Linked DNA regions of Homo sapiens: region 1 is reported to be linked to region 2. Evidence: microRNA targets listed by miRTarBase, many of them from high-throughput screens and not tested one by one. Region 2 holds a microRNA gene; the other region holds the end of a gene's coding sequence.

Evidence for each region. The annotated mature microRNA hsa-miR-5007-5p reads UAGAGUCUGGCUGAUAUGGUUU and lies in region 2 at 3,663-3,684, shown strand. An mRNA with a match to its seed (bases 2 to 7 or 8) in the 3' UTR can be bound and repressed. Matches are read on the target gene's strand: a 7mer-m8 pairs with bases 2 to 8, a 7mer-A1 pairs with bases 2 to 7 and ends in A, and an 8mer does both.
Region 1: the mRNA of RND2 is a reported target of hsa-miR-5007-5p. Seed matches in the 3' UTR shown: 7mer-m8 at 2,190-2,196.

What each region holds. Positions count from the first base shown.
Region 1 is chr17:43,027,703-43,033,087 of GRCh38, forward strand. RND2 (Rho family GTPase 2) reads left to right here. Exons shown (of 5, transcript NM_005440.5): 4 at 359-493; 5 at 730-4,339. The coding sequence ends at 978. Among named protein-coding and RNA genes, the nearest start is that of RND2, 5.2 kb to the left of the region's middle.
Region 2 is chr13:55,170,812-55,176,196 of GRCh38, forward strand. It overlaps MIR5007 (microRNA 5007), which reads left to right and starts at 3,643; the gene lies at 3,643-3,737. The region is part of intron 4 of LINC02335 (long intergenic non-protein coding RNA 2335); the gene reads left to right.

The sequences.
Region 1 (5,385 bases), not on the chromosome of region 2:
GGCAGCCCCAGTTCCCAGGTGGGGGAGGGGAGGGTGGGATAAATTTGTTCCCAGGAGAGAGTATGGGAAAGGCGAGTGGGAATGGGAAGTTTCCAGGCTGGCAGACCCTTCATAGCCACTGAGGGAGAAGAGTCCACAGGCCCACGCCAGCCCTCTCCTCCCCGCTGCTTCTCTCTCACCCCATCCTGCTCTCAAACCAAGCCTAGCATTCTCACCTCCTTCCTCATGTGGGAGAGTCCTGAGGGATACATGGTTTCTGCGTGCTTGAGGAAGAGAGGGCACACTGCTGGCATGGCACAAAGGCTCACGCTGTGCCTCCCTCCACCCCTCCACAATTCTCTTTTCTTCTCCTACATAGTGGCAAGGAGAGACTCAAGAGTTCTGCCCCAATGCCAAGGTTGTGCTGGTTGGCTGTAAACTGGACATGCGGACTGACCTGGCCACACTGAGGGAGCTGTCCAAGCAGAGGCTTATCCCTGTTACACATGAGCAGGTGGGACCCTTGACGTCTGACCTCATCCCAGCCTAGACCTGTCACCTCTGCCCCTTCAGTCTCTGATTTGAAAACACCTTACCTGGCTCATCCTTTGTTCTGGTCTGTGACCTCTGACCTGATCCCTTGACTGCCCCCAGCCTTGACATTCAACCCCAGCCCACAGCCTCCATGCCCCTTTCTAAGCTGCAGGCTAAGACCTATAACTTTCTCCCATGCACTCCTTCCTTTTCCAGGGCACTGTGCTGGCCAAGCAGGTGGGGGCTGTGTCCTATGTTGAGTGCTCCTCCCGGTCCTCTGAGCGCAGCGTCAGGGATGTCTTCCATGTGGCTACAGTGGCCTCCCTTGGCCGTGGCCATAGGCAGCTGCGCCGAACTGACTCACGCCGGGGAATGCAGCGATCCGCTCAGCTGTCAGGACGGCCAGACCGGGGGAATGAGGGCGAGATACACAAGGATCGAGCCAAAAGCTGCAACCTCATGTGAGGGGCTAGGAGAGGGCAGAGTGTGAAGAGGGGTGGTGAGGGACACAATTGTTCCCCTGCCTGCGCCCAGGCTTCCTGACCTCCTGATCCTGGCTGGGAAGTTAGGGCAGGCAGAGCGAGCAATTCTGGGCAGGGGAGCTGGAGGGCAGAAGGGTATCATCGTTTCTCATCTCCTCCTCCCTCCTCTTCTCCAGTGGATGTTGAGGGAGCTAACAGGGCTGGCATCTGGGGCATGAACTGGGATGGGGCAGGTGGGCGTTAGGGAAGCTGGTATCAAATGGTGACCTTGGTGGAGTCTCCTATGTGAAGAGTACCCTCCCTCTCCACCCCCAGTCCCCATATCCTGGTTCTGGCCCAAGGAAAATGTCCATTCTATGACCTTCTCTTTTCCTCTCCTCTCACTTCTGCAGCTATTCTCACACATCTAACCTCTAGGCAACATGCACTAAATTCAAAAGCAAGGAGAAGCCCTTGCCCCCCATCAGTCCACCAGCCCTAGAACCTCCCTTGCCTCAACAGTCACCTAATAAAGCCCACCTCCATGGAAAACGGCTGTGGCTTTAGTTTTGTTGCTTTTTAAAAAAATCAATCTACCAATCTTTAGCAGTAAGAGGGAAAGTTAGACCTCAGCTGGGGAACTTTCCTGTCCATGTCCACAGATAGAGCAGAGGACAAAGCCATAGGTTGGATCAGAAGTGTCCTTTTAGGAGTCAGAGTTGGGAGAAGGAGACATCCTGGGACTGTTCATCCTAGTTAATGAAGTGGGCAATTCTCAGGCCATTAGGGGGTTTTAGAGCAGACCGACATATAATTAGTCAGCATTTCTCAGCCCAGCCAGGCCTGCTGCTAGTGTGGGAGGGGTCCTGCTCACCATCTGTACCCCTGGCTTGGAGCCTGCTGGTACCCTGGGGGTTGTGGGGATAAGGAGGCATCAGGCCGGGCGCGCTGGCTCACGCCTGTAATCCCAGCACTTTGGGAGGCCGAGGTGGGCGGATCACAAGTTCAGGAGATCGAGACCATCCTGGCTAACACGGTGAAACCCCATCTCTACTAAAAATACAAAAAATTAGCCAGGCGCGGTGGCAGTGCCTGTAGTCCCAGCTGCTCGGGAGGCTGAGGCAGGAGAATGGTGTGAACCCGGGTGAACCTGGGAGGCGGAGCTTGCAGTGAGCCGAGATTGCGCCACTGCATTCTAGCCTGGATGACAGAGCAAGACTCTGTCTCCAAAAAAAAAAAAAAAAAAAAAAAAGAAGGCATCAAAAGCCTCCACATCACAGAAGCTACCCCTGTACAGCGTGAAGTTTCCTAAGAGGTCAGTAGTTTGATTCTGGGGTCTCCTTAGAGGCTCAGGCCAGGGACCTTTCTCTCCTCCCATGCTGAGTTTCATGATGGCTTTCAGGGGAGCATCAGCTGTTAGAGTCACCCCTACCCTGTCCCTTAAAGGAAAGACGGTGGAGAGGACGGCTGAGCGCCTGTTGTCAGGAAAGACAGTACTGGTCTGTTTTCTCGGGAGTCTGGTTTCAGATTGTCCTGTATTCCCTTCCTGGCTCTGGTCCCACTGGCCTCTTTTCGGTGACATTCTCCCCCAGGAACCATCCCTGGCCCTTCCCTCCCCCAGCCCTAGCCAGTTCTCCCAGACACACTGGAAGAGAACACTGACCTTACCCAACTATCTGCTGGGATCCCACCCAAATTTATAGCCCATTCCTCCCTCATTCATTCATTCAGCAAGTATGTACTGAACACCAACTGTGTGGCATACACTGGCTTGGGAGATTGCAAGGACCAGTCTCTAAGCTTTTGGAGGCCAGCCCAGTGTGGAAGAGAGGTACCTCAGGTGTGAGGGTGCCATGGCTGAGGGATATTTGTACATGTATGGGATGCTATGGGAGCTCCTTGCAGCCTGAGAAGCCAGTCCTGTGAGCCAGGTCCTGAGGGTTGAAGAGGAGTTTTCCGGGCAGGGAAGGGGTAGGAAAGGCACTCTGGGCAGAGGGTACAGCATGTGTAAACACGTGGAGATGAGAATGAGCATAGCACTGTTGGGGCTCCCATGGCAGGGAGAATAGAAGACAAGGCTAGGAAGGTACACTGAGGCTACTGCAGGGTCCACAGAGGAATCAGAATTTCATTCTGAGGATGAATGAAATCATCCTCAGAGGATGAAGCCACCAGGAATTTCAGGCAGAGAGTGAAGTGATCAGAGTTGTTTTTTGGATAGATGGTTATCTGGATGTGGTGTTGGAGCTGGGAGATTTGGCTCTGAGGTGTGTCATTTAAAATAATAGCTTCTCGGCAGTGGCTCACACCTATAATCCCAGCCAAGATTCCTCCTTTGGGAGGCCAAGCTGGGAGGATCGCTTGAGGCCAGGAGTTAGAGACTGCAGTGAGCTATGATCATGCCATTGTCTTCCAGCCTGAGTGTCAGAGTGAGACCCTGTCTCTAAAAAAAATTAAAAAATAAAAAATAAAAAATAGCTTCTCCTTTCCCTTATGCCAGGTTCCAGTCTTGAGAGGAAAGGAATCCCTACCCACCACTCCCTGGATCATCAGATATCCCTATCCCAACCTCTCCTATGGGACTAGTTCATCTCAGCCAGTCTCAAAGATTCTAGGATAACTTCAATGGCATTTGAAATTATCTAAGTGTGCTTGGATAACCACCCCCTCAAACTGAGACCTGGTTAGGGACTGACTCAAAGACCCTGAGTCCTCGGCTAAGGGTACAGGAGAGGGCAGGGGCTCCAGGCCCAGCTAGGTGGATCTCCATCTGTCTCTGAGGACTGACCCTTTCCCCACAAGGACCTGCCATAAAAATCGACTTGCGATTTTTAGCTGAGTGGCTTCTCTTTTCCACTTTGGACTTCTCAGTGTATAGCAGGTTCAAGCCTGCAACCACCAAAGTGCAGAGTGTGGAGTGTTTGTGCCCCCTCTTTCCTCCAACCTCCATATCCTGCCATGTGAGCTCAGGGAATGCAAATGCATTTAAATATCCATCTAAAGCAAACATAATTAGAAAAATCAATCAGCTGGAGGACCCCCCAAAGTTTAATACATTTTCAATACCACCAGGAATGGATTTTTGGTCCCTTTCTGCAGGTCTGGGTTGCCAGACGTTTTATTTCTGGGGAGGAGGGCTCTGGGCTGAGGAGCTCAGTGGGTGGGAGGAGGGAATGGGACTGTTGCTGATCCTCAAAGGCCTCTGTAGGATGGAGGGAGGGGACCTTACTCCCTTCCCCACCCCAGATGCAGGAGTCACCCAGCTTCCTTCTCTGCGCTGTTTCCTTCACAAATTAGACATTGGTTTGGGAAACAATGTAGCCTCGTTAAACATTTAATGAAATAAACAAATAATCACACTGTGATGGCTGCCAGAGTTTCTGTGTTTTTTTTTTTTTTTTTTTTTTTTTTTTGAGACGGAGTTTCACTCTGTCATTCAGGCTGGAGTGCAGTGGCACCATCTCGGCTCACTGCAACCTCTGCCTCCTGGGTTCAAGCGATTCTCCTGCCTCAGTCTCCTGAGTAGCTGGGACTACAGGCGCGCGCCACCATGCACAGCTAATTTTAGTGTTTTTTTTTTTTTTGAGACGGAGTTTCACTCTTATTGCCCAGGCTGGAGTGCACTGGCGCGATCTCGGCTCACGGCAACCTCACCTCCTGGGTTCAAGTGATTCTCCTGCCTCAGCTTCCTGAAGTAGCTGGGATTACAGCCATGTGCCACCATGCCCAGCTAATTTTGTATTTTTAGTAGAGATGGGGTTTCTCCATGTTGGTCAGGCTAGTCTTGAACTCCCGACCTAACGTGATCCACCCACCTCGGCCTCCCAAAGTGCTGGGATTACAGGCATGAGCCACCGTGCCCAGCCATTTTTGTATTTTTAGTAGAGACAGGGTTTCACCATGTTGGCCAGGATGGTCTCCATCTCTTGACCTCATGATCCGCCTGCTTCAGTCTCCCAAAGTGCTGGGATTACAGGCGTGAGCCACCATGCCTGACCTAATTTTTGTATTTTTAGTAGAGATGGGGTTTCACCATGTTGGCCAGGCTGGTCTCGAACTCCTGACCTCAGGTGATCCACCCACCTTGGCCTCCCAAAGTGTTGGGATTACAGGCAGGAGCCACCGCGCCCAGACTAGTGGTTTTTTTTTTGAGAGTCTCGCTTTCTTGCCCAGGCTGGAGTGCAGTGGCCCAATCTTGGCTCACTGCAAGCTCCACCTCACAGGTTCACGCCATTCTCCTGCCTCAGCCGCCCCAGTAACTGGGACCACAGGCACCCGCCACCACGCCTGGCTAATTTTTTTTTTTTTTTTTTTGAGACGGAGTCTCGCTCTGTCGCCCAGGCTGGAGTGCAGTGGCGCAATCTCGGCTCACTGCAAGCTCTGCCTCCTGGGTTCACGCCATTCTCCTGCC
Region 2 (5,385 bases):
AGAAGGAAACATGGATGTGAATGTTCATCAGAGCACTATTCACAATTGCAAAGACATGGAATCAACCTAAATGCCCATCGGTGGTAGAATGGATAAGGAAAATAGGATACATATACCACGGAATACTATGCAGACATGAAAAGGAACAAGACCATGTCCTTTGCAGCAACGTGGATAAAGCTGGAGGCCATTAACTTAAGTGAACTAATGCAAGAACAGAAAACCAAATACCACGTGTCTCTCTTATATAGCAGGAATATGCATTGAGTGCACAGGGACACAAAGAAGAGAACAATAGACATCAGAGCCTACTTGAGAGTAGAGGGTTGGAGGAGGGTGATGATTGAAAAATTACCTATTAAGTACTGTACTTATTACCAGGATGATGAAATACATCATTGAACACTTGATAAACTCCTACTGATATGGCTAATGCTTTTCTTCTCCATACTGTAAAGATCCTCAGAAGTCAGTTGCTTTTACCTAGCTGTGCTAACAGTAAACCTTCAGAGCCTTGTTTCAGGGTTGTATCATTTTTTTTTCTTCTAGATATGATCTGATTTGCAGAGAGTTTGATCATCATGACATTCCACAAAGCCCCAGTCTTGTCCACTACATTGATGACATTGAGTTTATTGAATCTGATGTGTAAGAGGTAGCAATTACTATGACATAGTTTCGTAAGGTAAATTCTAGCCAGAATCTGGGCAGTAATTCCACAAAAATGCATGGATCCACCTCTTCATTAAAGTTTCGTGGTTTCAAATGTCTGGAATATGTCTATACTTGCCTCGAAGGTAGCAAATATATTTTTTCATTTTGCACTGTCACAAAAAAAATGTAAAAGCTCAATGCATGGCAGGGTTTTCAAGATTTTGGAGACAACATACCACAGTTGAGAGTGCTTCTTCAGCATATTTACCAAATCATATATTAAGGCTGCCTATATCTTTGAGAGCTATATAGTAAGAGGTGACTTTTCAATAAATACAGGCCAAAGTACAAGATGCTCTTCTCCATGGCCTAATGATTCAGTAAATCCATTGATATTCAAAGTATCTGTGGTAAATAGAGATGCTTTATAGGCCATTCTGATAGACACTAATAGAAGAACCACAAGGACAACTTCTAGGATTTTGGAGTAAATCAATGTTCTCTTCTGAAAGTAAATTTCCTACTTCTTGAGAATTAGCTTCTGACTTACTATTAGCCCTTAGAAGAGAACAAACTGAAGATGACATCAGGTGACCATACAGTCTGCATTTTCCAAGTCAAACGCATCTATTAATAAAGTTGGATATGTGCAGCACCAATCTATCATTGAGTAAAAATGATATGTAAGAAAATGAGTTTGGGCAGGGCTAGGGGATAGAGTGTCTTTTGACACTGCTTCTTTCTGCATTGCTTCCCTTCCAACCATTCACACCTACGGCTTTATGGGAGTTTCATTCAACTAGTTGACTAGAAATAAAACACTTCAGTCTGTTTTACAGTTTGTTCTTCAGGATATGCTGGTATTGCCAATGCAGTTTCTATTTCCTTAATAGTTATTAATTGATACTTATTCTTAAGGAACAGATTATATAAGCAACCTTGATTCCGTAATTTTCTAACATACTATTCTTGGTTTTATTTCTGTCATATAAACTATGTATTTTTCCAACAGCTTAAAGCCAAGTTTATCTTTTAATTTCTCTATAAGTTTCAATCACATTAATCCAATTGTCAACATTGTATCAGTTAATTCTTTTAGGTTATTATTTTTATAAGGTCTTCCACAAATTTAAAAGCATGAATATTTTGCTTTTTTTAAAAAAAATAAACTTAAATTATTCTGTTTTTGACTTATTGTAATGCCTGAGTATAGTATTGAGAAAAATATTACTTACTTTTTCTTTAATTTATTTGGAATCATTCCAATATTTTATTATAAACATTAGATTTCTACTGCTTATCCTTTGCATGCAAACATACAAAGTCTAGGGGATTTTTTAGCCACTTTTTGCCACTTAACAACAACAAAAACAAAACAAAGAAATCTTAGTGCTTTTCTTTTTTTCATACAATTGTATATAGCTACAATTTTTTAATGTTCTACCACTTAGTAGGTTAAAATAAATTTATAGAAAAATAAATGGGAGATCAAATATTCATACTTTAACATAAGAACTATCAAGATACTAGAAGGCAAGAGTGATCTTATACATAAATAAGAGTTATATTCCACAAATCATAAAGGAAATATTGATATATTTAACAACATTTTAAAGGGGCTACACTTACATCATAAACAAAGTAAATGAAGAAATAAATAATGGGGAAATGGGATTTTTAACTTATAAGACAACTTTGTGATTAATTTTATATTCTAAATGTATAAAAATGCCATACAAATCAATACCAATGGAGTAAAGAAGCTTAAAATATAATAAAGTCAGACCTAAAAAACTATACAAATTGCTTATAAAGATGTAATAATATTTAGAATCACTTGTCAGATACATATGAAGTAAAATATGCAATTTTACACTGAGATTGGATTGGAAAATCTCTATTTTTTGTATTATATAGTTTTGTAAGCTATTGCATGGGAAATAAGATTTCTCATTTAACTAGATAATATAAATTAGAGGAGAACTTTGCAATCATTATTTGTTTTAAATATTACATGTTCTTGCAGATAATAAATAATCACTTAGGAATTTTGCCTACAATTTTGCATCTCAATAGAAAGCTATAAGAACACAGATATTCTTGATGCATTATTGGTAAAAGCAGAAGAGTGGTGGAAAACAATTGTATACCCACATTTAATGCAAACATAATAAATTTATGACTTATCTCATTATGTTATTTCCCAATTGGATTTTTTCATAAGTTTCTTCTGATAAACACAAAGGATACCAGGAATTGACTCTATATTACTGCTGTCCAATAGATCGTTCAATAAGGAAGAAAATCTTGTTTATTTGTGCTTTCCAATATGGTAGCCACAAGCCACATGAAGCTATTGAGTACTTAAAATTGACTATTTCTACTGAGATATAATTTTTTGTTTTAGAGATGGGGGTCTCAAATTCTTGCCTCAATCTCCTGAGTTGCTGAGACTCAGGATTCCTTCATGCCAGCTCAGGAATTAAATTTACCTATTAATCAATATAAAGTAAAAGTGGATAACCACATCGGGCTCAAGAATATCTTATTGGGCAGTGCAGTTTGAGGTAAATGTTGCTTCTTTAGCCAGTGTATTAGTTCATTCTCACATTGCTATAAAAAAATGCCTGAGACTGGGTAATTTATTAAAAAAAAGAGATTTAATTGGCTTATGGTTGTGAAGGTTGTATGTAGGAAGTATGACAGCATCTGCTTGGTTTCTAGGGAGTCCTTAGGAAATTTACAACCATGGTGGGTGGCAAACAAGGAGTCAGCACTTCACATGGCTGAAGCAGAAGGAAGAGAGAGAGGGGAGTGGTGCCACACACTTTTAAAACAACCAGACTTTGTGATAACTGACTCACTATCAGAGAACGGCACTGAGGCAGTGGTGCCTAACCATTTTTGAGAACTCTACCCTCATGATCCAGTCACTTCCCAATGGACACCCCTCTCTAAGACTGGGGATTACAATTTGACATGAGATTTGGTAAACCTTGGTGACTAATTAGAGTCTGGCTGATATGGTTTGACACAGAGCTAAATCATATGAACCAAACTCTAATTAGTCAATAATTTCTGTTAAAAATTATCCCTCAAATATCTTCCAAATCAGCCTTCTCTTTCTTATACTGATGAATGCTTCTTTTAATTAAATTTTTATTTTTTTCACCTGTATTACTGTACCATCTTTCTAAATGAACTCTTGTCATTTAAAACCAACCCTAAATTCATCTCCTGAGATGTCTGTAAAATGTAGATCTTCGTCACTTCTATATTTGCAAACTTTCAGCTCCCCCAAGTTGTTAATATTTTGGCCCCAGATTCTCCCTTTAGCCTCACATGGCTGCCAAATCTTCAAAACTCATTTACCTTCCAGACATAAAGCTTCTTCTAAAATTCTCTTTATAAAACATCATGCATTTTCATGTTTCCAAAGTTTTGCACATTTGTATTCATCTTTCTGGAATGCTTTCCTCAATGTTTTCACTTTTGTTTCTTCATTTATTCTTCAAAGACTAAGCTCACTTGTAACCTGCTGATAATTAACTATCCCCAGTTCTACAAGCATATTTGTTAGGGATGTCTCTTCACTGTTTATATAATATCCAGTCTTACTACCCCAGTGATAACTAATGATTCGACGAATAAATATGGTCAAAACTAAAAGCTCAGTAGCCAAGAACTAACAACGTAGAATAAATATTCTTCAATGTAAAAGGCAGAGTAGGAGAGAATCCCTGAAAATGGCAAGAATTGCTAGACATTAAATAAGACAGTAAATTTGATGGTTTGAGTTATTTTTTTCTTGTGATCGTCTTATTTTCACAGCCTATCAACATTTCTTCTTAGAAAAAAAGTAATGTTAGGATAAAAAATTTTAAGTAGGAGTGATTATAGCTATTGGGGACATAATTAATGAGATACCCCTCTTCTACTAGTCTATCTTTGAGTCATGCCTTTCTACTTATAATAGTAAGCTGACATCAGCTATAATAGGGAAATTATCTTCTCTCCTGGTTCCGCTAGTGTCTGTAGAAAAGATGCAAAATTTCACCTACTATAGACATATCCCAAAGACATACCCAATGCCGCCTACATGTTTCTCTAAAAACCCATCTTTTACTCATTGTCACTACATTTCCAGTCCACCTACCAAGTCTGCATTAACTAATTAAACAAACAAGCACTGTTTGAGAGTCTACAGAATTACAAGAAACCTAAGCATTCACAATGTTTCTAGTTCATCAGGAAGCTCAGATTTTGATCTATCTTTGGTTGTTAATTTTTCTGTCACTCCAATCATATTATTTGTTCTGTTGTAGTGCATCTATTGCAGGTCCCATTGAAACTCAAGTATGGCTTATCACACTGATCTTCAAACCCAATGCATATATCAGTAATCATACAAATAATAATAATGTTGACACATTACATTTATTACATATTTACTATGTGTAATTTACTATTCTGAGCACTCCTTTACGTTATGTGGTTTGGAGATTTATAGTACTCACTAGTAACTTACTCAAGGGATATTGAAAGAGTCATACTGAGTAAATGCTATTAAGTATTCTATGATACCAGAAACAACCTTAGTATTGCAACCTTTCAAATATAAACATATGTGAGTCAATCTGAGCTGTGGGTGGACACACTCTAGTGTAACCCCCAGGAAGTCACCTATTGTATAATACCATACCCTTGAATGTGGGCAAAACTGGAACTTGC